4 separate regions of the Homo sapiens genome follow, and regions 2, 3 and 4 are each linked to region 1. The links come from fine-mapping of genetic effects on gene expression. A gene starts in region 1. Each other region holds a variant in brackets. All regions are shown on one strand. Distances are between the middles of the regions. Region 1 holds the start of TMEM170A (transmembrane protein 170A). Region 2 has its middle 27 kb from the start of BCAR1. Region 3 overlaps CFDP1 (craniofacial development protein 1). Region 4 overlaps TMEM170A (transmembrane protein 170A).

The links. PIP is the estimated chance that this variant, and not a neighbour inherited with it, causes the effect.
Region 2: its variant is fine-mapped to the expression of TMEM170A in whole blood (GTEx, PIP 0.96).
Region 3: its variant is fine-mapped to the expression of TMEM170A in whole blood (INTERVAL, PIP 0.94).
Region 4: its variant is fine-mapped to the expression of TMEM170A in whole blood (INTERVAL, PIP above 0.99).

Annotation. Positions count from the first base shown.
Region 1 is chr16:75,461,227-75,469,332 of GRCh38, reverse strand. TMEM170A (transmembrane protein 170A) reads left to right here and starts at 4,644. Exons shown (of 3, transcript NM_145254.3): 1 at 4,644-4,865. The coding sequence starts at 4,733. RefSeq lists enhancers at 4,474-4,974, 6,164-6,213 and a silencer at 4,668-5,297.
Region 2 is chr16:75,274,890-75,282,995 of GRCh38, reverse strand. No RefSeq gene overlaps it. Among named protein-coding and RNA genes, the nearest start is that of BCAR1, 27 kb to the right of the region's middle. The variant T/C (reference allele first, on the strand shown) is at 3,636.
Region 3 is chr16:75,382,834-75,390,939 of GRCh38, reverse strand. The region is part of intron 5 of CFDP1 (craniofacial development protein 1); the gene reads left to right. Among named protein-coding and RNA genes, the nearest start is that of CFDP1, 47 kb to the left of the region's middle. The variant G/AG (reference allele first, on the strand shown) is at 3,800.
Region 4 is chr16:75,440,182-75,448,287 of GRCh38, reverse strand. TMEM170A (transmembrane protein 170A) reads left to right here. Exons shown (of 3, transcript NM_145254.3): 3 at 600-5,234. The coding sequence ends at 730. Among named protein-coding and RNA genes, the nearest start is that of CFDP1, 11 kb to the right of the region's middle. The variant A/G (reference allele first, on the strand shown) is at 4,472.

The DNA.
Region 1 (8,106 bases):
AATTCTCCTGCCTCAGCCTCCTGAGTAGCTGGGATTACAGGCACATGCCACCATGCCCGGCTAATTTTTGTATTTTTAGTAAAGACGGGGTTTCACCATGTTGGTCAGGTTGGTCTCAAACTCCTGACCTCGTGATCCACCCGCCGCAGCCTCCCAAAGTGCTGGGATTACAGGCATGAGCCACCACGCCCAGCGGTTTCTTCCACTTCTAATAGACTCTGCTAGTCTGGGAAATGTACCAAAAAGACAGCATGGTTAAAAGGTCAGTATTTCCTGACCCTTTTTATACTTCCTATTTTTATTTTAGATAGGTTTCTTGGTTGATGCAAAACGCCAATTGTAGTGGTAGGGAACTGGCAGGAGGAAGCTTCCTAAACGGAGGTTTCAAGAGAGACTTCTGTTTCTTTTTTTTTTTTTTTTTTTTTTTGAGACGGAGTCTCGCTCTGTCGCCCAGGATTGAGTGCAGTGGCGCAATCTCAGCTCACTGCAAGCTCCACCTCCTGGGTTCACACCATTCTCCTGCCTCAGCCTCCCGAGTAGTTGAGACTACAGGCACCTGCCACCACGCCCGGCTAATTTTTTTGTATTTTCAGTAGAGACGGGGTTTCACCGTGTTAGCCAGGGATGGTCTCGATCTCCTGACCTCGTGATCCGCCCGTCTCTGCCTCCCAAAGTGCTGGGATTACAGGTGTGAGCCACCACGCCCGGCCTTTTTTCTTTTTGAGATGGAGTCTGGCTTTGTTGCCCACGCTGGAGTGCAGTGGCTCCCGGGTTCAAGCAATGCTCTTACCTCAGCCTCCTGAGTAACTGGGACTACAGTCACACACCACCATTCCCAGTTAATTTTTTCTATTTTAGTAGAGATGGGGTTTCACCATGTTGCTCAGGTTGGTCTGGAACTCCTGAGCTCAGACAATTTGCCTGCTTCAGCCTCCCAAAGTGCCAGAATTACAGGTGTGAGCCACCGCGCCCGGCTCAGGAGAAAATTCTAATAAACAGTCTTGCTAATGTTCTTGAATTAAGAGGAAAATATGGGTTGGGTGTGGTGGCTTATGCCTGTAATCCCAGCACTTTGGGAGGTCGAGGTGGGTGGATCACGAAGTCAGGGGTTCGAGACCAGCCTGGCCAAGATGGCAAAACCCTGTCTCTACTAAAAATACAAAAATTAGCAGAGCATGGTGGTGGGCACCTGTAATCCCAGCTACTCAGGAGGCTGAGGCAGGAGAATTGCTTGAACCTGGGAGGCGGAGGTTGCAATGAACTGAGATCGTGCCATTGATCTCCAGCCTGGGTGACTGAGCAAGATTCTGTCTCAAACAAACAAACAAACAAACAAAAATGGAAAATATGTATTTTGCACACAATACTTTTGAGTGTAAAATAGGTTAATGACCGGGTGCAGTGGCTTACATCTGTAATCCCAGAACTTTGGGAGGCCAAGGCGGGAGGATTGCTTGAGCCCACAAGTTTGAGACCAGCCTGGGCAACATAGTGAGACCCTGTCTCTTAAAAAAATTTAAAAACAAAAAAGCTTTAAAAAAAATCATTTTCTCTGCAAATACTGAAGGTGTTGGTACATTGTCATCCAGCCTTCTTCTTCATTTGGCTACTGAACCATTTGATTCTCATTTCTTTGTAGGTGACCTATAGATTCCCTCTGTTTTAGGAATTTCTTTTTTATTTCTTTCTTTTTTTTTGAGATGGAGTTTTGCCCTTGTTGCCCAGGCTGAAGTGCAATGGCAAGATCTCGGCTCACTGCAACCTCTTCCTCCCAGGTTCAAGTGATTCCCCCGCCTCAGCCTCTTGAGTAGCTGGGATTACAGGCACCCGCCACCACGCTCGGCTAATTTTTGTATTTTTAGTAGAGACAGTCTTCACCATGTTGGCCAGGTTGGCCTCCAACTCCTGACCTGGTGATCCACCCACCTTGGCCTCCCAAAGTGTTGGGATTTCAGGCGTGAGCCACTGTGCTTGGTAGAATTTCTTATTTCTATCTTTTTCTTCTTGTTCTATTTATTTTTCTTTTCCTTTCTTTATTATGATTAATTTGGTGGAGCAACACCATTTATTTCCAGGGCCAGCATTGGATATAGCACAATTATGGAAAAAGGCTGTCAGCCACTGTCACAAAAAAATCCTACAGAATCTGAAATGCCAACAAGAAGTCTAGCTGCGCCAGAAAATACCTGTGAATCACAGGTTTTTCCATTTCAACTTATATGACAAAAAGTTTCAGCTTTAATTATTTACTAAATTCCTGAGCCATCTTTAAATTCTTGTGGGGTTTTTTGTTTGTTTATTTGTGTGTTTGTTTTTTGAGACAGGGCCTTCTTCTGTTGCCCAGGCTGGAGTACAATGGAGCAATGATAGCTCACTGCAGCCTTGACCTCTGGGGCTCAAGGGATCCTCCCACCTCAGCCTCTGGAGTTAGCTGGGACTATAGGTGTGTGCCACTACACCCGACTAATTTTTGAATTTTTAGTAGAGACAAGGTTTACCTATGTTGCCCAGGCTGGTCTCAAACTCCTGGGCTCAAGCAATCCTGCAGCCTTGGCCTCCCAAAAGTGTTGGGTTTACAGGCATGAGCCACCTTGCTTGGCAGATCGGTGAATTGGTCACTTTTTAAAAAGATTTTAAAAGGTATGATTTATGTAGCATAAAATTCATTTATTTTAACTGTACAATTCAATGATTTTTAAAGAAGTTTTCAGGCTGGGCACGGTGGCTCACGCCTGTAATCCCAGCACTTTGGGAGGCCAAGGTAGATGGATCACCTGACGTCAGGAGTTTGAGACAAACCTGACCAATATGGTGAAATTCCATCTCTGCTAAAAATACAAAAATTACCTGGGCATGGTGGCACGGAGCTATAATCCCAGCTACTTGGGAGGCTGAGGCAGGAGAATTGCTTGAACCCGGGAGGCGAAGGTTGCAGTGAGCCGAGATTGCGCCACTACACTCCACTCCACTCCAGCCTGGACGACAGAAAAAGACTGCGTCTCAAAAAAAAAAAAAAAAAAAAAAAAAAAAAAAAAAAATTTACCAGTCAGGTGCAGTGGCTCACGCCTGTAATCCCAGCACTTTGGGAGGCCAAGGCAGGTGGATCGCTTGAGGTCAGGAACGAGACCAACATGGATAACATGGCAAAACCCTATCTCTACTCAAAATACAAAAATTAGCTGGGCCTGGTGGCACGCGCCTGGAATCCCAGCTACTGGGGAGGCTGAGGCAGGAGAATCGCTTGAACCAGGGAGGCGGAGGTTGCGGTGAGCTGAGATTTCGCCACTGCACTCCAGCCTGGGCAACAAAGTGAGACTCTGTCTCAAAACAAACCAACCAACCAAACAAAAACATTATTATTCGTCACAAGCCTCTTCATCACCTGGAACCTTGTGGACATTACTTATCCTTGGTAACTTCCCTTCCAGAACACTATTGTTAATGGCTGCTATGGTCTGAACGTGTTCCCCCAAATTCATGTCCTGAAACTTCGTGGGAATGCGATAGTACTGAGAGGAGGGGCCTTTAGGAGACGATTAAGTCAGAAGAGTGGAGCCCCCGTTATGGGATTAGGACCCTTATAAAAGGGATTTGGAGAGTGGGCTCCCTTTGTTACCGTGTGAGGACGCCCGGGCGGTGCTATCAGTGAGGAACGGGCCGTCCTTAGACATGGAACCTGCTGCGACCTTGATCTTGGACCTCCCAGCTTCCAGAACTGTGAGAAAATAAATTTCTGTTCTTAATAAATTGCCCACTCTCAGGTACTTTGTTACAGCAGTGCAAACAAACTGAACATTAGCTTATTCCTTTTTACGATTTCTCTGCCTTCATTTTAACAGGCTTTCTGAAGGGAGGTGAGACAAAAATGTGTGATCCACGAGGACAGGAAATCGAGACCATCCTGGCTAACACGATGAAATCCCGCCTCTACTAAAAATACAAAAAATTAGCCGGGCGTGGTGGCGGGCGCCTGTAGTCCCAGCTACTCGGGAGGCTGAGGCAGGAGAATGGTGTGAACCCGGGAGGCAGAGCTTGCAGTGAGCAGAGATCGCGCGGCCGCACTCCAGCCTGGGTCACAGAGGGAGACTCCGTCTCAAAAAAAAGAAAAAAGTGTGATCTAATTTTATTGCTCTGAACCGAATCTCTGTACATTTTATTTTATTTAAAACTAAGTCGAGCTCTATAGAGGCTACATAGCCTCCCTCCCATTCTGGTCCCACACCAGACTTTGCATGGGCTCTTTCTACTATCAGCTTTAAATAGAGAACGTTCTTGTTCTGTTCATGAAGGTTTCATAAATGCTGGAGTCCAGTCATAACTAGAACTTTACATATCCGTTCCATCACTGTATTTTTCCAGATCCCTGGTAACTCCATAGCGCGGCTCTGTTGGGGCGCATGCAATTCCCTACTTTCTCACAGGGGGCGCTGCAGAGAAGGGCAGAGCAGAGCGCGCGGTCCCAGAGCGCGCCGTCCAGGAGGGGGCGCGTCCGTGGGGCTGTGTCTCTGCGAGCCCTGCGCAACGTTGGGGGCGGGAACAACCCTGGCCCTGCGCCCGAGCGCTGCGGCGCCTTGTGATTGGAGGAGGCAACGGTCACTTGGCAGCGCCGTTGGGATTGGGGGAAGAGGACCCCGGCTGGAGGTGACGCTGAGGCGGCGAGGGTGAGTCGGCGCCGGCCGCTACCGCACTTCGGGCGCTCGTCCCTCATTTCTCTGTGGTGAATGGCGACGGGATGGAGCGCGAGGGGAGCGGCGGCAGCGGCGGGTCGGCCGGGCTCCTGCAGCAGATCCTGAGCCTGAAGGTTGTGCCGCGGGTGGGCAACGGGACCCTGTGCCCCAACTCTACTTCCCTCTGCTCCTTCCCAGGTACGGCCCGCCCCGCGCCTGCGCACTGCGCGCCCCGCCGTCGCCGCTGCCGTGCTGTGGGCGCCCCGAGTCTGGGCGGGGTCCCGGGTGCGCAGCCTGCTGGCGGCGTGGGCGCTGTCCTCCGGGAGGGGGGCCGTGCTGCTCGCCCGGAGCCCCTTTCCCCATCACTTCTTCGGCGGTCCCTGAGGCGGAGCCCCGGAGTCCCGCTGGGCGTGAGATGCAGAGAGCGGCCGCAGGTGGGCCCGGGGCTGGAGGGCGCTCGGCCGCCACCCGAGCGGGTCTTGGCCTTGAGCTTCCGAGCGCCTCAGGTTCAGAGCTGCACCCCACGAGCCCGGGAGGCTGTGGTCCCCGCCCTGCCTGGGTTGCCCCACGGCGCCCGGCCTCCTTCGAGGGGTCTCGGAGCGGCCCGGCCGCGCTGAGGAGTCAGAGCTCGCGCTCCCCTTGCCCCGGGGCTGCAGCCCGGCCCCTCCGCGCAGGCGCTCGTTCGCTGATCGCGGGCGCCTGGGGCTAAATCCTCCCCCTCCGAGACCCGCTCCGCTTTCTAGGAATCTTTCCCAGACCTGGTGCCACCTGTTGCTGGGTCTCCCACTAAGCCTTCGAGATCTTTGGCACAGCTTCCTTTGAACTCTTCCTCCCCGCTGCGGCTTGAGCTGGGCCTGCTAGGAGGGTTGCTCAGAATTCTAATGCCAGGAAGAGCGCTCCGTGCCCTGAAAGCTGGAGGGAGGAGAGAGGACTTCACTTGGGAAGGAGGAGAAAAGCTTTGAGGGGAGGCACAGTTATTTGTGTGGTCCTTGAAAGGCAAGAAGACTAGAGCCCGTGGCCCTGGAAGGGGAGGTGGGGCTCCCAGCAGAGGGGACTGAGGTCTTCATAAACAATGAGGGACCAGAGCAGAGGGAAGGAGGACGAGATTCCAGACTCTAGTTCCAAACAAGGCACCTGTGATTTCTCATCCCCTGGGCAGCGACTGCCAGGCGCCGTTCAGCGGACACCTGGGACTTGCAGTGTTATGTGCCCAGGGATTTTCCCGGACGGGATTGTGAAGTAGCGGGTAAGGTCATCAGGCAGGTTGGGGTCAGATGCAGATGTTCGCTTGTGGTCATTCCTGAAATGAGAATCTGGCAGCTCACGTTATTTCAGAAGGTGCTAGGATCACTTTTGACAGTGATATCAAAAAATTGATGGTATTCTGGTGACCCTGTGTGATACATGAAATGTTCGTGCAATCTGGAGGCACTACTGGGACCAGATTAATCTTTGTTTCCTTAATTTTCCCCTTTCCTGAAAAATGTCAAGCCTGCCAAACAGTTGAGAGAACAGTATAACAAATACCCATGTACCCTTTACTTAGACTCAGTAATATTTTGATTCTTTGGCTTTCTGTTTCTCTTTCTCTCTCTCTGCTCTCTTTCTCTCTCTCTATATATATAACCACATGTATTACATACGTATCACACTTAGATGTAGGTCACATGTCCCATTTCAACTCGAGTCATTCAATAGGAAGTTGCAGAAGTCATAACACTTGCTTGATGCCTGATAATCTTAACATGTATCTTCTAAAAACCATTTTCTATCCATGAAACCATATCACATCCAAGAAACTGAACATCATAGAATAATGTTACCTAATGTGTGGGCCTTGTTTACATTTCCCCAATTGTCCACATAGATTTTTTTCCTTAAAAAAATATATATATTCCATGATCTAAGGTTCACACATTGCATTAAGTTGTCCGTCTCTTTAGTTTCATTTAGCTAAAACAGTTACTTCCTTGTTTGAATTTTTTAAGATGGACATTTTGGAAGAGTCCATGTGAATTGTTGTATAGACTGTTTTACAATCTAGGTTCATTAGATGGTCTTCATGATTAGATTTAGATTAAACATTTTTGGTCAGAACGCTACCTACCTAGGTGACGTCCACTCACCAGTACATCACATCAAGAGACACTGAATGTCAGCCTGGCTCAGTGGCTCACACCTGTAATCCCAGCACTTTGGGAGGCTGAGGCAGGCGTATCACCTGAAGTCAGGAGTTCAAGACCAGCCTGGCCAACATGGCAAAACCTTGTCTCTACTAAAAAGTCAGGCGTAGTGGTGTGTGCCTGTAATCCCAGCTACTGGGGAGGCTGAGGCACGAGAATCTCTTGAACCCAGGAGGCAGAGGTTGCAGTGAGCCAAGATTGCGCCACTGCACTTTAGCCTGGGTGACAGAGCGAGGCTTTGTCTCAACAAAAAAAGAGACATTGAATGTCAATTTGTATCTTCATTGATAATACTAAGTTTGATCATTTGGTGAAGATGGTGTCTATGAAAACTCTACTGTAAGGGTATCTGCATCCTCTCTTTACTACCAAGTTTGATCATTTGGTGAAGATGATGTCTATCAGAACTCTCTACTGTAAGGGTTCCTGCATCCTCTGTTAATTAAACGTCATATGTAGGGTCATAAGTTGGAACTGAATAGTCTGTTGAGTCTCTGGCTTTTAGTTCCCTTTCATTAAGAAAAGATTGAGATAAGTGGATTTGGGATAGGTTTAATACATCACAGTAGGTAATCTGTAGCCATGTGAATTGTTTTACTTTCAGAACTTTTTTCTGAAAATATTAAACTTCAGTATGTTCTTGAGTTTATGATTACTGTTATGGGTATGTAACTTGTGATGTCGATTACCAGAGATCGTTTATTCAGTAAGTATACATTTGGCCAAGTGCCAACTCTGGTCTGGTGTTATGAGCAGGTATGAGGCATAGCCCTTGACCCCAAGTAGATCAGAATTTGGTAGTAAACACATAACCTCCCTGCTGTGTCTCATCTTTGGCAGGAATAATGGGTGTAATAAATACATGAAGTTATATCCTATTTGAGACACCAAAATCTGCTTAACAGGAGTTGCATTCATTGTCCTGAATCTGTTGTATTGATATTTTGGCCCCACAGAAAAGGTTACTTGCAGTGTATGCCAACTCATTATGGCAGAATCATTGTTCTGAAGTATTCTGACATATTTATGTATACCAGGAAGTACTGAATTGATTTTTTCTTTATTACCTGTATTTGCAGTTTAGCCATTTACCTACGGAGGGTTAGGTAGACATCTAAATGACTAAATTGGCCGGTTGCCGTGGCTCACGCCTGTAATCCCAGCACTTTGGGAGGCCGAAGCGGGCGGATCATCTAAGGTCAGGAGTTCAAGACTAGCCTGGCCAACGTGGTGACACCCCATCTCTACTAAAAATA
Region 2 (8,106 bases), 190 kb after region 1:
AAACTGGCCGAGTCAGCCTCCTCCCAAAACATGGCTGTGACAGATGCTCAGAGGCAGGATGAACAGGCCATATGTTAGAAGGATGCTGCACAGGCCTCGACTTGTTAGATGCAAACTAAATGGTTCCTGACCTGGATAAATGAGCTTGAAATGTAAAGACACCAAAACGAATTACACTCAATGTCTGGATTTTCTGGCAGAAGTTATGGGGCTGCCTGTCTTCAAACTGCCCGGTGTCCTGAGTTGTCCCTGGGCCCTTAGGCCCAGGCTGTGCCTTGAACCTCCTGTGAGTGCCTTCTCTCAGTGGGAGGTGTGGCCAGATCTCCTGAGGATGTGCAGGAGTCTTACTGGGCAGAGCCCTCCTCTCCCAGGTCCGCTGAGCAGCCCCATTCATCTCTGAGAATGATTTCATGCCTTCTTCCACTGAACACATTTGCATGATAACCTGGGCCTGCCAGAGTTCGAGGCACCCCAACTGACAAATGGAACACATTTTTTAAGCTCATTGGGTGCCGAGGGGCACTGTCTGCAGCAGGCTGAACCCTCTCTGTATCAGACACCCTGTCAGGTTGTCTCTAGCAGGCTCACAATTTTGTTACCACTCTGCCATTGAGTTCCATTATTGGATCCTTGAATTTGAGGTTCAGGGTCCTGAGTCATGAGAAGGAAAAGCTGCCCATCTCCCAGTCACCATTCGCCCCACATCCCAGCCCTCCTGTACCAACAGGGTCCGATGTGTGCCCTTGAGCCGCCTATAGACAACTGAGCTAGAGACAACCAGAATAAGCATTATCATTATAAAGGCTTATTTTGTCTTTGTGATGCAGTAGTATTTTCCAAAAAAAATTGCAAATATCCCATGTGTTATAATAAAAAAATATGACTCACCCCTGTAATCCCAGCACTTTGGGAGCCTGAGGCAGGAGGATCATTCTAGCCCAGGAGTTCAAGACCAGCCTGGGCAACATACCAAGATCCCATCTCTAAAAAATCAAAAAATTGGCCGGGCGTAGTGTCGCGTGCCTGTGGTTCCAGCTACTCGGGCAGCTGAGGCAGGGGAATCGGCTGGCAGGTCAAGGCTGGAGTGAGCTGGGATCATGCCATTGCACTCCAGCCTGGGTGTGCAAAAGCAAGATCCTGTCTCAGTTAATTAACTATTAATTAATTATTTGGCTTTGTGTTTCTGGCACAGAGCTCCTAAAACCCTTGGAATTTACTGTCTTGTGTGCTAATGAGGGACCATGGCTTATCATAGGGGAGCCCTCGATAGCTTCAGGATGGGGACTGGGTGCCAGAAAACCAACCACATGATTTCAGCCCTCCCCTCCCAGCCTCCAGGGTGGGGAGAGGGGCCAGAGATGGAGCTCAATCACCACAGACTAGTGATTTAATCTATCATACCTATGTAATGAAACCTCACAAAAACCCCGAACCCCCTTGCACCCCCAAGTCCATGGGGACAGAGGCTACTGCACTCAGGACCCTTCCAGACCTCACCTATATACTTCATCTGGCTGTTCATTCTCATCCTGTATAATAAACTGCAATGGTGAGTACGGCACTTTCCTGAGTCTGTGAGTTATTCTAGTAAATTATCAAACTTGATAGGAGTGTGGGCACAGTGGCCCATGTCTGTAATCCCAGCACTTTGGGAGGCCAACGCAGGAGGATCAGCTTGAGTCCAGGCGTTCAAGACCAGTCTGGGCAATATAGTGAGACCCTGTCTCTACAAAAAAACTTAAAAATTAGCTAAGCATGGTAGCTGTCTGGTCCCAGCTACTTAGGAGGCTGAGGTGGGAGGATTGCTTGAGCCCAGGAGGTGGAGGTTGCAGTGAGCCAAGATTGTACCACTGCACTCTAGCCTGGGCAATAGAGCAAGACCCTGTCTCAAACAAAACAAAAAACCCAATAGGAAGAAGGGTTCATGGGAACCTCCAAATTTATAGTCAGCTGGGCAGAAGTATGAGTAGCCTGGACACTCCATTTGTAGCTGGTGTCAGAAGTGTGGGCAGTCTTGTGGGACCAAGTCCTTAACCTGTGGGGTGTATGCTAATTCTGGGTAGTGTCAGAATTGAATTGTCGGACATCCAGTTGGTGATGGAGAATTGGTTGGTGGTGGGAAAAAAACCTCACAGCCCACTTTTGTCTAACTCTTCCTTTAAGGCAGACAACTGACACAAGCGAATTGAGAGGCAAGGCAATTAGTGAAAGACACCCACATCAGATGCCCAGATCCTAATCCCGGCGCTGCTGACCAGCTGGTGACCTTGGGCACATGGCTTGGCCCTCTGCCTCCCCTGGCCTGTCTATAAAATGAGGGGGTTGATTAAATTATCCCTGGGGCTTAACACTAGGAATCTCTACTTCTAACAAGCAGCCAGGTGATTCTTCGGCACTCCAAAGCTTGAGAACCAGTGCTTATGACCTCCTTAGCAGTAAAATAATTAAAAGGCCTCCAGCTATATATTTAGGAAAATTACATCTTTCTTTATCCTTGCCACTTCAAATAACTGAAATTCCTAAACTGCTGCACCAGCAAAGCCACAATGAATAAGTCAGCCTAGGTTCCATCCCCGATGTCTGCCGAGACTCACCTGCAGGAACTTCCTCCTACTTTCAAAGAGCTTGGCTGAAGTCTCCTAAAAGTTGTGGGGGTCGGCGCCCGGGCACAGTGGTTCACGCCTGTAATCCCAGCATTTTGGGAGACCAAAGTGGGCTGAGCACTTGAGTCTAGGAGTTTGAGACCAGCCTGAGCAACATAGTGAGACCCTGTCTCTACAAAAAAATACAAAAATTAGGTCGGGTGCAGTGGCTCATGCCTGTAATTCCAGCACTTTGGGAGACCAGTGGATCATCTGAGGTCAGGAGTTCAAGACCAGCCTGGCCAGTATGGTGAAACTCCATCTCTACTAAAAATACAAAAATTAGCCAGGCGTGGTGGTGTGTGCTTGTAGTCCCAGCTGCTCAGAAGGCTGAGGCAGAAGGATGGCTTGAGCCCGGGAGGCAGAAGTTGTAGTGAGCCAAGAGCACACCACTGCACTCCAGCCTGGGTGACAGGAGTGAAATCCTGTCTAAAGAAAAAAAAAAAATTAGCCAGGCATGGTGGCACACACCTGTAGTCCTAGCTGCTTGGGAGGCTGAGGTGGGAAGATCACTTAAGCTAGGAGGTGGAGGTTGCAGCGAGCCAATATTGCCCCACTGCACTCCAACCTGGGCAACACAGCGAGACTCTGTCTCAAATGTTTTTATAAAAAAAAAAAGTTGTTGGTAACTTGGAGAAGCAGCTGAAGTCAGGCCTGAGAAGCAAGTGAGAAATTCAGACAACAAAATCCACCGAAGACCCAACAAATACAGCTGAAGAGACAACACTTTCCTGCCAGGTGGGCAACAGATGGCAGGACCCATGTGCACACACACACTCACACCAGCGAAGCCGAGTTTGCAGTGTGTCAGCTAGGTTGCCCTGCCGCTTGGAGACCCAGCCCCCACGCACCACACTCCTGTCAAAACAAGCCCTGAGCTAGGCGGATTCTCGCGGCTCCCGCTCCTGCCAGCTCAGCCAGGGCAGCCCCGCTGGGCTCTTCCTGCCAACCTGAGTTCTACTGGCTCTCCTCTTCCCTCCTTCTCTCTCCTCC[T/C]GATATTCCTCTGCTGTTCTGATGGAGAAGAAATCTATTCATTGAGAATTTGACAGCAGAAAAATGAAAGAAAATTTAAATCTCCTATAACCTTCCTAACAGAGAAAACTACTGTATACACTTTGGAATATTATTTCAGCCATTTTTTATGTGTTTAATGTGTTTTTCATACCTTTTTTTGTTTTTGTTTTTGTTTTTTGAGACAGGGTCTGTCACCTGGGCTGCAGTGCAGTGCTGCAATCATAGCTCACTGCATCCTCGACCTTGGCTCAAGCGACTCTCCTGCCTCACCTTCCTGAGTAGCTGGGACTACAGGTGTGCACCACCACGCCCGGCTAGTTTTTGTATTTTTTTTTTGTAGAAACGGGATTTTGCCATGTTGCCCAGGCTTGTCTTGAACTTCTGGTCTCAAGCGATCTGCCTGCCTTGGCCTCCCAAAGTGCTAGGATTACAGGCATGAGCCACCACGCCCAGCCACCCACACCTTTTCTTAACATACTTGGGATTTAGTGTACCTGTGCAATTCAATACAGAAGTCACTATCACCTGCAGCTCTTTAAATGTTAAATTTGTTAAAATGTAAAATTCAGTTCTTCAGTTGTGCTAGTCCAAGACCTCATGTGTTCATTAGTGGCCTATGGTTATTGTCTATGGAATAAGGGACCAGGCAGGTGCAGAACATTTCCATCATCACAGTCCTATCAGCCTGCCCTGGTGTGTGCAGTTTTAACCAAATGCTACGCGCTGAGCATTTCCCTATTAAATATTCTCAACATTCTTTGAGTACATTATTATTATTATTATTTTGAGGGAGGGTCTTGCTCTGTCGCCCAGGCTGGAGTGCAGTGGCATGATCTTGGCTCACCGCAACCTCTGCCTCCCAGGTTCAAGCGATTCTCCCACCTCAGCCTCCTGAGTAGCTGGGATTACAGGCATTCACCACCACGCCTGGCTAATTTTTGTATTTTTAGTAGAGACGGAGTTTCGCCATGTTGGCCAGGCTGGTCTTGAACTCCTGACCTTAAGTGATCCACCCTCCCAAAGTGCTAGAATTACAGGTGTGAGCCACTGCACCTGGCCGAGCACACGGTTTTTAAGGGCTGCAGAGCATATGCCATTTGTGGTTGTGCCATGGTTTATTTTACCGATCTTCCACCATTGGCCATTCAGGTCACCCACTGTTGTGATTATGAATGATGCTGTGGTGCACTGCTTTAGCCCTTTGATAATTTTCCACATTCCTGATTCTCTTTTTTTTGAGATGAAGTCTTGCTCTGTCGCCCAGGCTGGAGTGCAGTGGCGCGATCTCTGCTCACTGCAAGCTCCGCCTCCCGGGTTCACGCCATTCTCCTGCCTCAGCCTCCCGACTAGCTGGGACTACAGGTGCCCGCCACCACGCCCAGCTAATTTTTTGTATTTTTAGTGGAGACGGGTTTTCACCATGTTAGCCAGGATGGTCTCGATCTCCTGACCTCGTGATCCGCCCGCCTTGGCCTCCCAAAGTGCTGGGATTACAGGCGTGAGCCACCCCGCCCGGCCATCCACATCCCTGATTCTTTCTAGATTATTTCTATGAGTGAGTTTGTTGTGTTGGGCAGGGCACGTATTTTCAAGGCCACAAAATGGAATGCCCAGCTACCTCCCAGAAAGTTCTCTCACTTGGACAGGGCAGGTGTGCCCCTCTCTGCTTATGTGAACCCTCTGAGAGGAGAGGACTCATCGAGGAAGCCCTGCCTGTCTGAGCAGAGAGCCTGGTGCTTTGGGAGAGACCTACCTGAACTAGGAGGAGAATGGCCATCCAAGGAACAGACTGGAACTAGATTGTCCCTGAATTCCAGAACCTTCTGCCATATCAGCCCAGGGCTCTGTCTCTGAAGGCAGCATCTGGACAGGGGAGAGATATGCTGCCCCAGGGACCCAGATTCACTCAAGCCCAGCCTTGTGGTACATTCATCTGTGAGTTGCTGTGAATGTGCTTTCTGAATCCCTCTATCCTCTCACCTCTCAGGGTAAGTGAGTTCTGTTCCATTAAAAAGGGGGGTTTTCCAGGCTGGGTGGCTCACACCTGTAATCCCAACACTTTGGGAGGCTGAGGCAGGAGGATCACAAGGTCAAGAGTTCGAGACCAGCCTGACCAACATGGTGAAACCCCGTCTCTACTAAAAATACAAAAATTCGCCAGGCGTGGTGGCTTGGTGTGCCTGTAATCCCAGCTACTCGAGAGGCTGAAGCAGGAGAATCACTTAAACCAGAGAGGCGGAGGTTGTGGTGAGCCAAGATCGAGCCACTGCACTCCAGCCTGGGCGACAGAGCAAAACTCCGTCTCAAAAAAAAGAAGTGGGGTTTGGCCAGGCACGGTGTGGCTCATGCCTGTAATACCAGCACTCTGAGATGCTGAGGCGGGTGGATCACTTGAGCCCTGGAGTTCAAGACTAGCCTGAGCAACAGGACGAAACCCCGTCTCTACCAAAAACAAAAATTAGCCAGGTGTGGTGACACACACCTGTAATCCCAGCTACTCGGGAGGCTGAGGCACGAGAATCGCTTGAACCTGGGAGGCGAAGGTTGCAGTGACCCGAGATCGTACCACTGCACTCCAGCCTGGGCAACAGAGCGAGACTCTGGTGTGGTGGCTCACGCCTGTAATCCCAGCACTTTGGGAGGCTGAGGTGGGCGGATCACCTGAGGTCAGGAGTTTGAGACCAGCCTGACCAATGTGGAGAAACCCTGTCTCTACTAAAAATACAAAATTAGCCGAGCATGGTGGTGCATGCCTGTAATCCCAGCTACTCAGGAGGCTGAGGCAGGAGAATCGCTTGAACCCGGGAGGCGGAGGTTGTGGTGAGCCAAGATCACACCATTGCACTCCAGCCTGGGCAACAAGAGCGAAACTCAGTCCCCACACCCCGCCCCCCAAGAAAAAAAAAAAAGAAAGAAAGATTCTCCAAGAGAGGTGTTTTAACTTCCCAAAAAAAAGAGAACCTGCTATTAGAATAAATTGAAGTTGCCACCTATGTCTCTGAATTGTATTATAGGCTTTTTGTTTGTTTGAAACAGGGTCTCACTTTGTCACCCAGGCTGGAGTGCAGTGGTGCAATCTTAGCTCACTGTAGCCTCGACCTGTCAGGCTCAAGAGATCCTCCTGCCTCCGCCCCCAAAGTAGCTGGGAATATAGGCACGCACCATGACACCCAGCTAATTTTATCCATTTATTTATTTTATTTTTGAGATGGAGTTTCGCTCTTGTTGCCCAGGCTGGAGTGCAATAGTGCAATCTTGGCTCACCGCGACCTCTGCTTCCCGGGTTCAAGCAATTCTCCTGCATCAACCTACCGAGTAGCTGGGATTACAAGCATTCACCACCACGCCCTGCTAATTTTGTATTTTTTTAGTAGAGACAGGGTTTCTCCATGTTGGTCAGGCTGATCTCAAACTCCCGACCTCAGGTGATCTGCCCGCCTCGGCCTCCCAAAGTGCTAGGATTACAGGCGTGAGCCACCGCGCCCAGCCCTGACACCCAGCTAATTTTTTTGGTATTTTTTTGTAGAGACGGGATTTTATCATGTTGCACAGGCTGGTCTCTAACTCCTGACCTCAAGTGATCCACCTGCTTTGTATTCTAGTTTTACATTTTGAAGAATTTAGGACCTTTTTGTTACTTATGAATACAAAAGACATGTTATTAAATGGATTGCTACTTTTAAAAAATTTCGTACTTTTGACCCAGTAATTCAATGTCCAGGAATTTATTATCAGAAAATACAGTAATCAGATTGCAGAGAAAGATCCGCTTACAAGTATACTCATCTCAGCATTATTTGTACATTATTTGGTCCAAAATGGAAAGAACCGCAACACCCACATGCAGAGAATGGTTAAATCAGGTGTGGGAATCCTGTACAATGAATGATTGATTATTTTACCGCTTTTGAGGCCAGGTGCATTGGCTCAGGCCTATAATCCTAGCACTTTGGGAGGCTAAGGCGGGAGGATTGCTTGAGGCCAGGAACTCGAGGCTGCAGTGAACTACAACTACACCACTGCATTCCAGCCTGAGTGAAAGAGTGAAACCCTGTCTCTAAAAGTAAAAAATAAAAATGAAAGTTATTCATTGAGCCCCTACTATTTGTCAAGATGATTTCAGCCCTCACGGAGTTTATAGTTCACAGGAGCAGATAGACAGCTATTGAATACACAAGTAAATATATAATATCAGGAAGTGGTAAATACCACAAATAAAAATTCCTCCCATTTGTTGGTTTCCATGTACCCAGCCCTGTGCTAAATGTTTTACCTAGATTATCTCATTTAATCTTCACAGCAACCTATGACAAGATAATATTTCCATTATGACCAAAAGTAAATCAGGGAAGGCATCCTGAGAAGGCAACCTTGAGCAGACCTTGAAGGAAGGAAGGAAGGAAGGGGTGCATCAGAGGAGACTCTGGGGGCCCGTATCAAGGGCAGAAGA
Region 3 (8,106 bases), 78 kb after region 1:
TACTTTCTCACAAAGTGGTGGAAAACCACAGGGATACAAATATTGGTGTGGCCTCCCTGGGGCTGGTAATAATGAGACTCTATTACTACCCCTAGGCCTGAAAGGGCAAGAGTGGGAGCAGTTAATGGCAGGGGAAGAAAGGGTTAGGTGGAATGGACCTCCTGACAGGAGCTGAGACCTTCTGTTAAGTGATGGACTTCCCCCAGAGGGAAGCCAAGGGAATAAATACCCAGATCTGTTTCTTCTCTCTCTGCAGCCTCTTAGGGTACTCCATTGCCCTCTGAGGCTTATTAAAGAATATTCTGACACTTGTTAAAACTGTGAGAACACTTTATCCAAAACTATTGCAGTGGGTCTCAAGACTATCTCTGGGGAGAGAGAGAGTGCTCAACTCCGAATACAGCAAAGACAGCTGGGGATTTTTAGCAGAATCGGGAGGCAGGTGGTCAGTGGATAGAAAATTACTAAGAGGAGACATCAAGGAGAGGGTGATTCTTGCTCAAGGCAGGGTAGTGTGATCAGATATCAAGGGTAGGGGATTCTCTCTACACTGACTTAGCACAGAATTCTTTCCAAAACTGCGCTGTGCAGGCCAGCAAGGGCAGGGGCCAATTTCAAGCCTTAGTTGAGAAGAGGGCTCAGTGGAGTCTGACTAAAGTTTGGTTTAAGGAGAGTCTTCATCAGGCTGTCCTCACAGAGCAGCTCCTAGAGCAGAGAGCCATGTGGGAAAGGGTATAGAGGGAATCTAGGGGCCAACCAGGAGCTACCTTGGGAGCTATACAAGTGAAATATTTTTCAGTAAAGAATGCTGACTCCCTTATAAACAGGGTAAAGTGAAATTTGACCAAAATCAGTTTCTTTGAAAGCCCTGATGGAACATAACACATTACAAGGATATGTCTGCCAAGTGCCTGAGTAAAAGTCCTTAGAGTTGTACGTGAAAATGTACGTGTTTAATTATGATACTGTGAACCTTGGATTTCTGAGTAGATCCAGAATGACTTTCAAGGTTGGTATGCTCATTTTTATGAAATGCATCTCAAAAAGCTTTACAGTTACAATTGTGCTTGGGAAAAGACGGGTCCAAGAGGAATTCAGCTGATCTGGGGTATCTGAGTGGGCACATTTTATCCGTGCAAATATTAGTATCTGTCAGCAGACTCCATTTGCAGAGTATAGAAAGTCTTTTCAAGGGAAGGATCTATAGGAATAATCTAATATTTTAAAAGAAAATTAACACAGTCAAGTTTTTTTCCCACAGACTTTTTTCATTTTGGGAGCTGCTTCAGTTTATAGAAATTGTCTTGCAGAAACACTTTATTTGTTTATTTTCCTCTCTCTAAACAGATTTAAGCAATACAGGAAAACCAGAGCAGGAGAGTAAAACATCCTGTCCCACATCTTTTGATAAGATAAGCACAGATTCAGAAATAAGAACAGATTTAGAGGAGCAAATGTTTGTAACTAAAAATGCATTTCCTCCATGTGTTTAAAATAGCACACTGCTTAGGCTATAAAAAGCCAAAGTTTATGTTTTGGGAATGGAATAAGCCCTACTTTAATTAGAGGCAGGAATCAAACTACAAAAATTACTCTCCTACATTTGGTAGTAAAGTACAAAGCTTAATGTGTCTAAATTCTCATGGTCTTGTCATTCCATGCTCTTGATCCGCCTCTTCCCTCACTCCCCAGTCCTTACTACCAGTACTGTTAGCTACTTGCATCCAGTTTTCTCAGCATTTGCTGGTATCTGGCTGGCCAGGCTTCAACCCCACATTTGCTACCTATTTTCAAGCCAACATTTACTATTTATTCCAACAGCGGGCCACCATTAGTGTCATTAAAATTTGTAATCCTACCCTTACGCATTGACTTGTTTAATTAAGGGCCTACTGTTTAGCTGCCTCTTTATAGATTGAGAATGACCTAAAGCAATATAACTTAAGAGGGAAAGACATCATTTTCCCATGTAGTTTTAGCCTTGTTTTCTTGATCTATGGAGTGGAAAAAAAAAAAAAAGGCCTTAATGTTGAGTATCAAACAACATCATAGGTGATGTCAGTGTAGCAGTGTTTTCCCCAAAGATAGAAGACACAGAATCCCTCACAGTACCATCCTGAAGATAAAAGACTCAGACTAAGGACTGAGAAGACAGTAATGCTGACCATTGTAGTTTGCCAGAATTCAGTGTATGTAGTCAGTAACCAGCAATCTTTGGTTTGTTCAGCAGAGTCTTCCTGTCTGAGCAGTTAATGGTGTGATCTCTCCCAGTCTCCTCATTTGGCCAATATTTAAAACTCTAGAAAGTTGACATAAAAATCTGGATTACTGGCTTTTCTTGAGAAATGAAAATTTCTGCCACTACCTTCCCTCTTCATCTATGGTAACACTGGGGTGGCACAGAGTAGATGGGGTTTGCCCTTTTGTGGTCCCTACTCAGTGGCTTTACTCATTTATATTACCTGCATGGTTCCTGTAGGCAACTGCTTTTCCCACTCTAGGGTAACATGTTTCCCTTTGATGACCATGTTAATTTCATTTTGGAAACAATTTGTTCTCTAGATTAAATACCAAACATACTATCTTCTCAGACTACAGGTTAAATATTCTTTACCCTTTTATAAAGAATAAATAATGTCTATTTATTGGCTGCTTCACCACATTTAAGGCACAATGCTAAATGTTTTACATGTATTATTTCACTTAACCCACATAAACATTCCAAGAGTAGGCACTAACTTTGTGCCCATTTCACAGATCAGGACACTGAGGTTCAGAGAGGCGTCCTTAACTTGTTGAAGTTACATAGTTGATGATTGGTCGAACTCGGATTCCAGCCCAAATCTATTTGAGACCAAAGCCTGGGCTCTCAGCCACTTTGCCATTGCCACTGCTCGCTCTTATTCTCCTGATAGATGTTTTTTTGTTAAAAGAGTCTCTCCTCAATTTCATAACTGATGTGGGACTCTTTGAAAGCTATTTTGTTATTTTTGAAGAAAGTGAGAGGGCTGTTTCCCCATTTTTCCTTTGTAAGCTTTTCCTCATTAATATAACCATTTTCTATACTTTTGTTTCATTCCTGTCTCAAGAAAGTGAAGGTCTAGCACATTTTAAAAAATAAGTTCCAGGTATGTTTGTACATTGATACCTGTCAGCAGCAACAGTGAAGCTGTGGACAAGATGTGATGTGGGGAATAATGGCTATTACTGTTTCCAGAGGGTAATCATTTCCTACTGAGGTATGAATCCTACATTGTGGACAACTTATATGTTGATGGAGAGCCAGGTAGGAGTATCATTGCCCAGCTTGTGTCAAGTGCATTTCTTCTGGTGGCCATTTGTTCCAGGATAGGACTAGCTAGAGATAGCTTTTAATAGGATGTTTCAGGAACTAGTGGTGACAATGGAAATGATTGATTTTGGCAGCTCTGGTGGTACTGGTGTTGTCTTACTTATCAGCTCCAGAATGACATGGTTTGTGTAGAAGCAAGAATACCCTGGCCGGGCGCAGTGGCTCACGCCTGTAATCCCAGCACTTTGGGAGGCCGAGGCGGGTGGATCACGAGGTCAGGAGATCGAGACCATCCTGGCTAACACGGTGAAACCCCCGTCTCCACTAAAAAAACAAAAAATTCTCCGGGCGTGGTGGTGGGCGCCTGTAGTCCCAGGTACTGCGGAGGCTGAGGCACGAGAATGGCGTGAGCCCGGGAGGCGGAGCTTGCAGTGAGCCGAGATTGCGCCACTGCACTCCAGCCTGGGCAACAAGAGCGAGACTCCGTCTCAAAAAAAAAAAAAAAAA[G/AG]AAAGAAAAGAATACCCTGTACCTGACTTTCACCTTCATGTTCTTCAGTGGATGCTAATACCGTGCTTCATTTGTTTTTAACTTATTCTTAATTTGTTTTAAAATAAGCCTTTATAGGTATTGCAGGTACAGAGTAAATAGATTAGAAATTGAATAAGGAAAATAGTTTTTAAAAGATTTTCCCTTGAATATTTGGAGTATTTTCAATCTATTAAAGGCAATTTCATTCACATTGTTGATTCAAAGCTATTATTCCAGGCTAAGCTAGTAACTGAGATAAGTATGAATGGAGAGTCTAGTGATATCCTTTTGGGAGGGAAGAGGATATCTGACAATTCGGGTCATGAAATAAAGTCCTTGCCAATCTGAGCATCTAAATGAGACTCTAAACAGAGAGAAGGTTTCTCTTTTTTTTTGAGACGGAGTCTCACTCTGTTGCCCAGGCTGGAGTGCAGTGTCGGGATCTCGGCTCACTGCAGCCTTCGCCTCCCAGGTTCAAGTGATGCTCCTGCCTCAGCCTCCCAAGTAGCTGGAATTACAGGAGCCTGCCACCACGCCCGGCTAATTTTTGTATTTTTAGTAGAGACAGGGTTTCACCATGTTGACCAGGCTGGTCTCAAACTCCTGACCTCAAGCAATCCACCTGCCTGGGCCTCCCAAAGTGCTGGGATTACAGGCGTGAGCCACTGTGCCCGGCCAAAAAGTTTTCAAAGCAAAAACTTTTTTCATTTGTGGTCACCAGGATGATGTAACCTCTGTCAGTTCGGATTGAATACCTACAACAAATACTCTGAACCTAGGAATTATCTATAGTGATTTTCAAGGTTGCCTGGAGTTAAATAAATTCTAGTGTTCTTAGAAAATTCTATGAAGAGATGAACTTTATTTACACATAGCAGCCTTTTTCCTTTGCTCTTAGCCTCAAATTATAGTGCCAACAAGTTTCAAACATGTATGATTTTAAGAGCCAGATGTCTATCAGGATCACAAACTTTTTTTTTTTAATTTTACTTTAAGTTCCGGGATACATGTGCAGAACATGCAGGTTTGTTACATAGGAATCCATGTGCCATGGTGGTTTGCTAGGATCACAGACTTTTAAAACTTTATTTTGCCGTATTCCTATACCCTTGGTTGTGCCAAATTGTCCTGGTGTGAAAAATGAGTCAAGTTAAATGCTTTAGGTGCTTCTTGGATGTGTAGGGAAGAATGGAATAGGTATGTGAAGTTATGGTAGTCATACAGTTTACTTAGTATGATAATATAAATTGATTTGGGAGCAAGGAAACGAAGACCTTCATTTAAGAAGATGATTATGATACTCTAGGAATGAAGTGAATATATTTTGGTTAACTTTAAAACAGTAATTTATTATTGCTTCATAGGTCTTTAACTTCTTTTACTGTACACTAGAGGGCAGAATTCCACCTGAAAAGATAGCTCGTCTTTGGCAAGATCCCAGAAAGCATTAAGCAGCATTCTTAAGATTGGGTAAAAGAGTCTTGTACATTTTTCTTTGCCTTATTAGATTCGTCTCTTGGTATGATATTTCTATGTACTATGCAGTTTCTACTTTTTTCTTTTATTAGAATTTTTTTTTTCAACTCTACTATTGTGCTTAGAAAGAGAAATGATTTTTCTTCTTTCATTTTTTTCCTTGGGATACAAAAACTTTGTTGTTGCTGTTGTTGTTGTTGTTTTAAATTACAAATAAGAAAGTAAAAATGACCTGTAGTCCCACCACTTAAATTTTTTTCGGAGAGAAGGCAGTGAAAGTTCCTTTCTGCCTTTCCAATTGTTAATTGTCATCCCTAGAAGCTGATAGCTGTTAACTGATGATCAGTTTTGTGCAGATCCTTCCCTGTGCTATGATAATATATTGTATTCATATATATTAATATTAGTCACAAGATTCTCCATTCATACTTACGTCAGTTACTACCTTGGCCTGGAATAATATCTTTGAATCAAGAATGTGAATGAAATTGCCTTTAATAGATTCAAAATATTCCAAGTATTCATGGGAAAATCTTTTAAAAATTATTTTCCTTATTCAATTTCTAATCTATTTACTCTGTACCTGCAATACCTATCAAGGTTTATTTAAAAATAAATTAAGAATAAGTTAAAATCAATGATCAGGGAAAACAATATATACATATATATTGTATACATATATATGTATTGCATTCGTAGATACTTAAAACAAAAGTGGACTTACCCTGTCTGTACTGGTCTGCAATATATATATATATATATATATATATATATATATATATATATATATAGTTTTAGTTTCTTCTTGCAACTTGTATTTTTACTTAACAGTCTATCTTGGGCATCTCTCCAGGTTCAATATAAACATCTGTATTTTTTTTATGCCTGCCTGGTATTCCATTTTGTGACTTCCATAATTTGAGTGCACCTTCTCTTATTGATGAACATTTACAGTTTTCCAAATTTTACAGTTATTAATAATCTGTGATAATCCTTACACATATGTTTTTTATGTTCTCATACTGTTATTTCTGAAGGACAGAATTTTAGAAGTGGGATTGCTGGGTCATTGGGTATGTGCATCTTAAATTCTAATAGCTGCTGCTAAATAGGCAGAAGCAATTTGAAGTCATGCCAGTATTATGTGAGAAGACCAGTTTCCATACATTTACCAATATGTATTTATCTGCATTTCTCCACGATCATTGTAGTAACTGTATCTTTATAACCTGCTGGTTTGTGTGGTGGTTTAAAATTTTTCCTCTTTTCTTTCTCTTTTTTTTGAGATGGAGTCTCACTCTGTCGCCCAGGCTAGAGTGCAGTGGTGCTATCTCGCTCGGCTCACTGCAACCTCCACCTCCTGGGTTCAAGGAATTCTCCTGCCTTAGCCTCCCAAGTAGCTGGGATTACAGGCATGTGCCACCATGCCTGGCTAATTTTTGTATTTTTAGTAGAGATGGGGTTTCGCCTTGTTGGCCAGGCTGCTCTCCTGACCTCAGGTGATCTGCCCACCTCAGCCTCACAAAGTGCTAGGATTACAGATGTGAGCCACTGCGCCCAGCCAAAATTTTTCCTCTTTTGAAAACTGTTACCAAAACAGACTTTTTATTAAACTAATATTATTTTGTGTATTTGTCAAATGTTACGGAATGAATAAATTAAGGTTTGCATATTACCTGTAGGTAGTTTCCATATTGTATCAAATTATCAAAGTTAATTAATCTTCAGTCATTTAAGAGATCAGGTAAAAAAATCTAGATTTTATAAACACTGAGATAAATTGTGAGCCAAATTTGGGGCTGTATCTTTTTTTTTTTTTTTTTTTTAAGACGGAGTCTCGCTCTTTTGCCAGGCTAGAGTGCAGTGGCACGATCTCGGCTTACTGCAACCTCCACCTCCCAGGTCCAAGCAATTCTCCTGCCTCAGCTTCCCGAGTAGCTGGGACTAAAGGCGCCCACCACCATGCCCGGCTAATTTTTGTATTTTTAGTAGAGGCAGGGTTTCACCATATTGGCAAGGATGGTCTCGATCACTTGACCTCATGATCCGCCCACCTCGGCCTCCCAAAGTGCTGGGATTACAGGTGAGAGCCACAGCGCCTCGCTGGGGCTGTATCTTATTGATCCTTTGCAAATGCTGTGTGCTGCTTCACTCTTAGGTTCTTTGTGTTGGAAAGTACTATCTCAAAATGTTTTAACATCAGGGAAGAATGTCATTCATCCTAATCATAGCACTAAGCGATTTTTATGTTCTGATTAAAGTTCTTAAAAAGGCAACTTGCTGCTATTTCCTGAAGGGTTCTGACTGTACAGAAAGATTCATATTAGATAAATACTTTAATTTGGATTGAGGAATTTTTCTTTTGGGAGAGGCTGAGCAGCTGTCTTCTAATTATTTTGGTCAAGGATTGAAAATCAGGCTGGTCTGAAGTCCAGCACTTAACTATACTCAGTTACTTGAATTTTGGATTCTGCCACAACCCTGTTACCCAAGCAAACCTATGATAAATTTAAGCTGAAATAATTTAAAGCTAGGCCAATATTTTCCCATCATTGAGGATATGGAAGATTCTAATCAAACATTCATCTTTAGACCTAGTAATTCTGGATGCTTAAGACCATAAAACATAACCTTTTGATTATTAGCATTTCCTTGAATTTGAAATGTAGTACAATTTCAGTAGTTGCTAATTTGAGAATGTGTAGGAAAAACTCATGCTTTGCATTGGCTTCTGCTTTAAACTGAGATCTTTTAGTCCTAGCTGCTTGTGAGATGATGTGCCTGTAGGAAGTGGAAACAAAAGGAGAAGA
Region 4 (8,106 bases), 21 kb after region 1:
CCTGAGTATCTCTCCTCTCATGCCCTGTGAATGAATAACAACTTTATGGCTTAGAGTCCTCCTGTCTTCCCTTTTCACCCCTCTAGTCCCTCCTCCGTCCATTTCTTGAAGGGAACTATGAGTGTGATAGAAGGTGGAGTGGGGATTCCCTGTGGCCTGAAACATTTCTTGCTTAGTCTAACTCAAAAGATCCTTTTTCATTTGTTACCAAAAATGTATTAGGTCCCTGTTGAAGGCTAGGCATGGGGTAACTGGTAGGGGAATACAGATATTTTTGAGTTCATAATCTGGTCATGTGGGAATTGCTATCTTTGTGATTTTGATTATTTCTTCCAGATTATTTTATTCAATAAATCTAGGAGACTCTGGGTTTTAAGGAGTCAGCATCTAAAAGTGATCTTGCAAGCCATGCAATGAATACTCAAAGTGTAGAGTAGTCCACAGAAAGAATAGGGAAAACCTAACATTTCTGTAAGATTTAAATTTCAGTATAAAATCTGGAACATTCTACTCGCAGTAGTATTTTAAATGTTGTATTTTCGTGAGTTTGTTAACCTTCGTTTTTTGTTTTTGTTTAACATTCTTGCATTTTAAATCAGGTGCAGCTATTGCTGGAGTTTACCGAGCAGCAGGGAAGGAAATGATACCATTTGAAGCCCTCACACTGGGCACTGGACAGACATTTTGCGTCTTGGTGGTCTCCTTTTTACGGATTTTAGCTACTCTATAGCATACATCCTTATGCTGAGATGTTGAACTTAAACTTTATGGAATCCTCCAAAAGAATACATTATGGAGTGTAGTGTTTTCTTAGTTCTTCAAAGGGAAGCAACTTGGATGAACAGGAACATGAAGGACAACACATCTCAGCCTTTTCTTCATTTTGAAGCTCCTAGAATTGAAGACTTATGTGGACTCCTATTGTTCTCAACCAAAACAAGTCTTTTGGCTTTCTTTTTTGTAGATATTTGATTTAAGCAGTTTTCATGTGTACCTTTACCCAAGCCAAGTCAACAGTGTCTCTGGGGTGGCATCCTTTGCACTGAAATTTACAGTATTCTGTGAGATGTCGCATATTTTGAAGAAACCGTGGAAGATACTGGTTTATTTCAAATGAGCAGAGTATGTTGTATTAAAATCTTATCTAATCTTGATTAAAATTTGGCAAACTCTTTTCTTTGCTACATCTTAGTGACAATAAATGCCAAATAGGTTTTGGTTGAGTATAGTTTTGAAAACAAATTTGGTGAAATAAAGCAGGAAAAAAAATTTAAGTATAACTCAAGTAGTGGCTTTGGTTCCACTGTTTATAAATAAAAAGTAGATAACAATGAATAATGTGACATTTTCTGGACAACTGTCTTGACTTCTGATTAAGATATTTTAAGAGATGTGAATTTGTTATTTTGTATGTTTTATCAAAATAAGCTAGCTAATTTAGACTTTTTAGATTTTCTGTACCACCTTTCCCTATCACTTTTAATTCTCTTAATTTTATTTCATTTAATTGGAAACATACATACCCTATTAAATGGCTTGAGTTGGAAATTTTAAGCCAGATTTGTTTGGACATTGAGGCACACATAAGATACTTTAGGCATTCTGTCATAGTTTTTCTTAGTGACTTTGGTATACTAATGACCCTTGAGAAACTATAGAAGTGCATCTGAAACTAGAGTTAGTGGTTATTGATTTTTTAGCTTAATGTGTTTACCTAGTGGTAACTCTTCAGCCCACTTTTACAGTATTGGGTATCAACTCCCAGAAAGTGCCTAAAGTTTAATGTTCAGATATGTACCCACTCTCCCCTTTACATTTTTATTCAAAAGAATTTATATCTTTAAAGAGATTTAAATATCAAGAGTTTTTTTAAAACTTAATTTTAGCTATTTAAATTTTTATTCTACTGCCTAACTTTCTTTTTCATTAAAAGGCCTGAAAACTGTGACTCTTTGAGAGGGAAAGAATCGCAGAAATTAAGTATTTAATGTGATCCTTTCCACCTAAACTGTTTTGTATGGAATACAATCAGTGTGGTGGTAGTGGTGGTGGTTATCTGCAAAATAGTTTCTGGTGATTAAATCTGACTTTTTTTTTTTTTTTTCTTTTAAATGAGACGGAGCCTCACTGTGTTGCCCAGGCTGGAGTGCAGTGGTGCAATCTCAGCTCACTCCAACCTCTGCCACCCGGGTTCAAGCGATTCTCCTGCCTCAGTTTCCTGAGTAGCTGGGATTACAGGCACCTGCCACCGTGCCCGGCTAATTTTTGTATTTTTAGTAGAGATAGGTTTCACCATCTTGCCCAGGCTGGTCTTGAACTCCTGACCTTGTGATCCACCCGCCTCGGCCTCCCAAAGTGCTGGGATTACAGGCGTGAGCCACCGCGCCTGGCCATAAATCTGACATCTTTAAAGGAAAGTTTTCATTGTGAGATTAAGGCTTAACAGCCCATGAGGTCATATACACATGAACGTATCTATTCCATTTAAAGCAATACACACTCTGGCTTCTGATTAAAAATAGCCAGGAGGAGAGTCTCTGAATCTACTGTGATTCTGGAGTCTGCCCAATTTGGAAAAAAAAAAAAAAGAAAAAAGTCAGGAGGACCAATTTGCCAGGGAAACTCATAGAAAAGAATTACAAAGAGATCACAAAAACTGGACATATTCTTTTGACTAATTAGACCACTTATGGCTGGGCGCAGTGGCTCACACCTATAATCCCAGCACTTTGGGAGGTCGATGTGGGAGGATTGCTTGAGCCCAAGAGTTCAAGACTGGCCTGGGCAACATAGTGAGACCTTGTCTCTACTACAAAATAAAAAAAAATTAGCTGGGCGTGGCCTCAGCTACCCAAGAGGCTAAAGTGGGAGGATCACTTGTGCCTGGGAGGTTCAGGCTGCTGTGAGCCGAGACCACGCCACTGAACTCCAGCTTAGGCCACAGGGCAAGACCCTGTCTTAAAATAATATTACTAATTTTGGTAATTAACTTATCAAAACTATAGTGACATATACACGGGCAGAAACTTATAAGTAGAGTTGTAATGCAGCCAAATATTCTTACAAATTCCCTAACAAGAAGCTCAAATCTTTCTCACAGGCAAATTGTAAAAATTCTAGTTTTTTGTTTAAAGAGCTGTGATTTTCAAAAGTATCCCTTCAGTTTAAGAAATCTGGGGAATTGGTAACTTTTCTTATGGGAAATGATTGCCATCATCTCTACTGAAGGATGCCTCTTACTGAAAAATGTCTTTTGAAGGAGTTCTTGCCTAAAGCATTCTTTGGATGTAATTTCATACACTAAACATATAGACCAGTAGTTAGTGGGCCCCTCCTCTTAAACAGTAACTTTTGAAGTACTGATACATGATTAAAATGTTAGATATTTTTCACTGGAGCTAAGACTTAAAATTAGGGCATTTTGAAAGGTGTATTTGTTTCTGTTTCTTGTTTGATATATTTTGGTTATCTACTCTTTTAAAAAACTAAACGTATAAAAGGTATCTTCAAATTACTGAGTGTTTCATCCATCCCAGTAGGTGAAGTATTCTCCAGTGAATAAATCTATATATATATATAGATTTTAAATAGCTTGAGCGGTGTAGCTTGAAATGTTTTCAGGGAAAGACTATTTGAATCATAAGGAATAGCTTTGATTTTCTTTTTTATGTCTCAAATATAGAATTATTTGGGGGTGGTCACTCAGATGGAAGAATATTGGCAATTGTGTTGAACATTTTACCTTATATAGTTTTGAGAATTTTTGCCAAAAACTGATTTCTTAGAAATATCCTCCCCCAGCTGTGCTTTGGTTTTTTGGTTTTTTTGTTTTGAGACGGAGTCTTGCTCTGTCGCCCAGGCTGGAGTGCAGTGGCATGATCTCGGCTCACTGCAAGCTCTGCCTCCCGGGTTCACGCCATTCTCCTGCCTCAGCCTCCCGAGTAGCTGGGACTACGGACGTCCACCACCATGCCCAGCTAATTTTTTGTATTTTTAGTAGAGACGGGGTTTCACCGTGTTAGCCAGGATGGTCTCAATCTCCTGACCCGCCTCCACCTCCCAAAGTGCTGGGATTACAGGCATGAGCCACCACACCCGGCCTCTGCTTTGTTTTTTAAAAAAAAAGAAATGCAAGAGAGGGAGGGAGGCAGCCTCCTGACCATAAAAGCTGATTTCTTGATTTTTTTTTCTTTTTTTTTTGAAATGGAGTCTTGCTCTGTCTCCAAGGCTGGAGTGCAGTGGCATGGTCTCAGCTCACTGCAGCCTCCGTTTCCTGGGTTCAAGTGATTGTCCTGCCTTGGCCGCTGAGTAGCTAGGATTACTGGCACCCGCCACAAGGCCCAGCTAATTTTTGTATTTTTAGTAGAGACAGGGTTTGATTATGTTGGACAGGCTGGTCTCAAACTCCTGACTTCAAGTGATCCACCCGCCTCGGCCTCCCAACGTGATGGGACTATAGACATGAGCCATC[A/G]TGCTTGGCCTTCTTGATTCTTGAATACGGGGTTTTGAGGTGAAAGCATTTCATGAAAACTTAAGTTCATACACAAGAGCATCATGAATATTCTAAAAGAGGTATCTGTGCTTTTTTTGTGACCACAAAATATTACTTCTTATGAAATGTTTACACTAGGTGAGGAAAAGTTCATTAATTACCTTTAAACCGTTCCTTATTTTTTTTAAGATTTTAAATTGTATTTTGGCTTTTGCCTCCAGTATCCTTTCTGGTTGCTCTGGTTTGAATTAAGTTCCTATTATGCTGCAGCACATATCAACCTTCCCTAAGTAACCATTTCCTGGAATGTGAAGCATCGGTGCCATTAGCAGACCATATGCAGAAATGTCGTGTACTTGCATTTCTTTTTTGTGCACTCTATAAGGCTGGTTGTGACTCAGATCAGCTTAACTTTTTATATTATGTTATTTCACTAACTGCTACAGTCAAAATGATCAAATCTTTGTACAATAGAAAATTATTTAAATTTTATTTTTCTACTGACATTTCTAATTCTAGTGTAAATGTTTATCAATAAAAAATTACTTTCAATTCTGAGTTGGAATTATATTTCTTTTTGGTGGCTAATGAGTTTAATCTTTTGTAATAAAATTGACTTCAGTTTTCATTTTTTAAATAACTTAATATCTAGCATGTGTAACTTTTTTTATGTTCTACTTCTTACTAATTTATGATAAAATTCTTGTTCAAAGTTGTGATTAAACCGTACTTAACATGTGAACTTGAAATTCTTATTAACTCTACTTGCTGGGCCATATATTCCCATCAAGAAACTTTTGTTTGATTCTGTGCAGGAATAGGTGAGTATTGATACAGTGTGTGAAAATGTATTATTTTAATAGTAAGTCCACATGAAGAGAAGCTTCGTCGTGTTTGGTTAATTTAATACCCTTGGTGACATCATAAATCTCACTGTTCTGCCATTTTTAACAAATGGGACTAAGTTGGGTAGTTTACCTCATGGTCACAAGATTGCTGCAGTTCCAGCCATTGCAGACACATACAGAGAATGTCTGGCAGGAGATTGCCCATTCATTCCTTCTAATTTTCTAAAGTTGAGGTTTAACATGCAGTAAAGTGTACAAATCTTAAAATGTATAGCTTAATGAATTTTACATATATATATATATATATATATATATACTTAATGTGACTAATAGATCAAGAGACAGAATGTTTCTAGCACCCCGGAAAGATACGTACACAGTTCAGACAGAAGACCCCAAGACTGTATATGTATCTGGGAGTAAAGGTGCTGAGATCGGCAGGGAGGACACCCTAAATTATTACCGAGAAAACAGAACAGTGAACCAGGAATCTTTAGGGAGTTGGAGGGATTTGTGCTGTGGCCAAGTGGAGAGCCCTGTCCGAAGGAGTCAGCTATTGCTTGGCTCCAGCCTGTTTCTGCTTTATTCGATGATTAACCCAATCTTGCCAGATACTTATTTTCAAGAGAAGCTGGAAATCTAGGTTACTGTTTGAAATCTCTCCATTTTTAAGTGTTAGCAACTAATTTAAACTTGCGTAAAACACTTTTATTATTTATTTATTTATTTAGAGACACAGTCTCGCTCTGTTGCTCAGGCTGGAGTATAGTGGCGCGATCTTGGCTCACTGCAATCTTCACCTCCCAAGTTCAAGTGATTCTCCTGCCTCAGCCTCCCAAGTAGCTGGGATTACAGATGTGCGCCCCCAAACCTGGCTAATTTTTGTATTTTTAGTAGAGACGAGGTTTCACGGTGTTGGCCAGGATGGTCTCGAACTCCTGACCTCAAATGGTCCGCCCACCTTGGCTTCCCAAAGTGCTGGAATTACAGCCGCGAGCCACCTGTAATTGTGCGCCTTGCCGTAAAACACTTTTAAGTCATTACAATACATGATTTTAAGCTGGATTTGGCCTGCTCACCACCAATTTTTTTTCCATCTCAACTATTAGAAAGTAATTCCCACTCTGATTACCCTTAAAGCGGTCAGGAACTCTAGTTGTAAATCTGAACAATCACATGGAGTGCTAGGAGAAATGGGTGCTGGGGAGTGTCTGCCAGAGAACGCAGTGGCTCCTGTTCCCCAGACTCACCCCCAGTGATAGGGCAAAAGGGTACATCCTGATTTGTGGCTGTAGGACACCATTTATGCTGTCCAAGGTAAATGACGCCAAGAATGGTCAACTTCCAAATACTGGGTTCAAATTTTACATCTATTTTTCTATTACTCTCCCATAAGAAAAGTGTGCTTAGGCCGGGTGCAGTGGCTCATGCCTGTAATCCCAGCACTTCGGGAGCCCGAGGCGGGCAGATCACCTGAGGTCAGGAGTTCCAGATCAGCCTGACCAACATGGAGAAACCCTGTCTATACTAAAAATACAAAATTAGCCACACGTGGTGGTGTATGCCTGTAATCCCAGCTACTTGGGAGGCTGAGGCAGGAGAATCGCTTGAACCCAGGAAGCAGAGGTTGCAGTGAGCCGAGATCACGCTATTGCGCTCCAGCCTGGGCAACAAGAGCGAAACTCCATCTCAAAAAAAAAAAAAAAATGTGCTTAAATGGATCATAAACCTAAACGCAAGAACTACAACTCTTAGAAAAAAATAAGCGTAAATTTTATGATCTTGGCTTAGGTAAAGCTTTCTTAGATACAATTCCAAAAGCACAAGGGAAAATAAACAAAAAATAGATAAATTGGACTTCATCAAAATTAAAAACGACTTTGAAGGACACCTTCAAGAAAGTATGAATAGCCAGACACGGTGGCTCATGCCTGTAATCCCAGCAATTTGGGAGGCCCGGGTGGGAGGACTGGTTTAGGTCATGAGTTTGAGATCAGCCTGGGTAACACAGCAAGACCCTATCTTTACAAAATATGTGTATTTTTAAAAGTTAGCTGGGTGTGGTTGTGTGCACCTGAAGTTCTAGTTACTCAGGAGGCTGAGGTGGGAGGATTGCTTGAACCCAGGAGTTGGAGGCTACAGTGGGGCTATGCACCACTGCACTCCAGCCTGGGCAATAGAGCAGGATGCTGTCTTTCAAAAAAAGTGGAAACCTCACAAAATATGAGGAAATATGTTCAAGTCACAAAGGACTGGACCAGCCTGGTGGTGGACCAACTGGACCAACATGGTGAAACCCCGTCTTTACAAAAGGTATAAAAGTTAGCTAGGCGTGGCCAGGCGCGGTGGCTCACACCTGTAATCCCAGCACTTTGGGAGGCTGAGGCGGGCGGATCACAAGGTCAGGAGATCGAGACTAGCCTGGCCAACATGGTGAAACCCTGTCTCTACTAATAATACAAACATTAGCCGGGTGTGGTGGTGCATACCTGTAATCCCAGCTACTCAGGAGGCTGAGGCAGGAGAATCGCTTGAACCTGGGAGGTGGAGGTTGTGGTGAGCCAAGATCATGCCATTGCACTCCAGCCTGGGCAACAACAGCAAGACTCAGTCTCAAAAAAAAAATAATAATAATGATAATAATAATTAGCTAGGCATGATGGTGCGCCCCTGTAGTCCCAGCTACTCAGGAGGCTGAGGTGGGACGATTGCCTGAGACCAGGGAGGTTGAGGCTGCAGTGAGCCGTGATGGCACTACTACAGCGT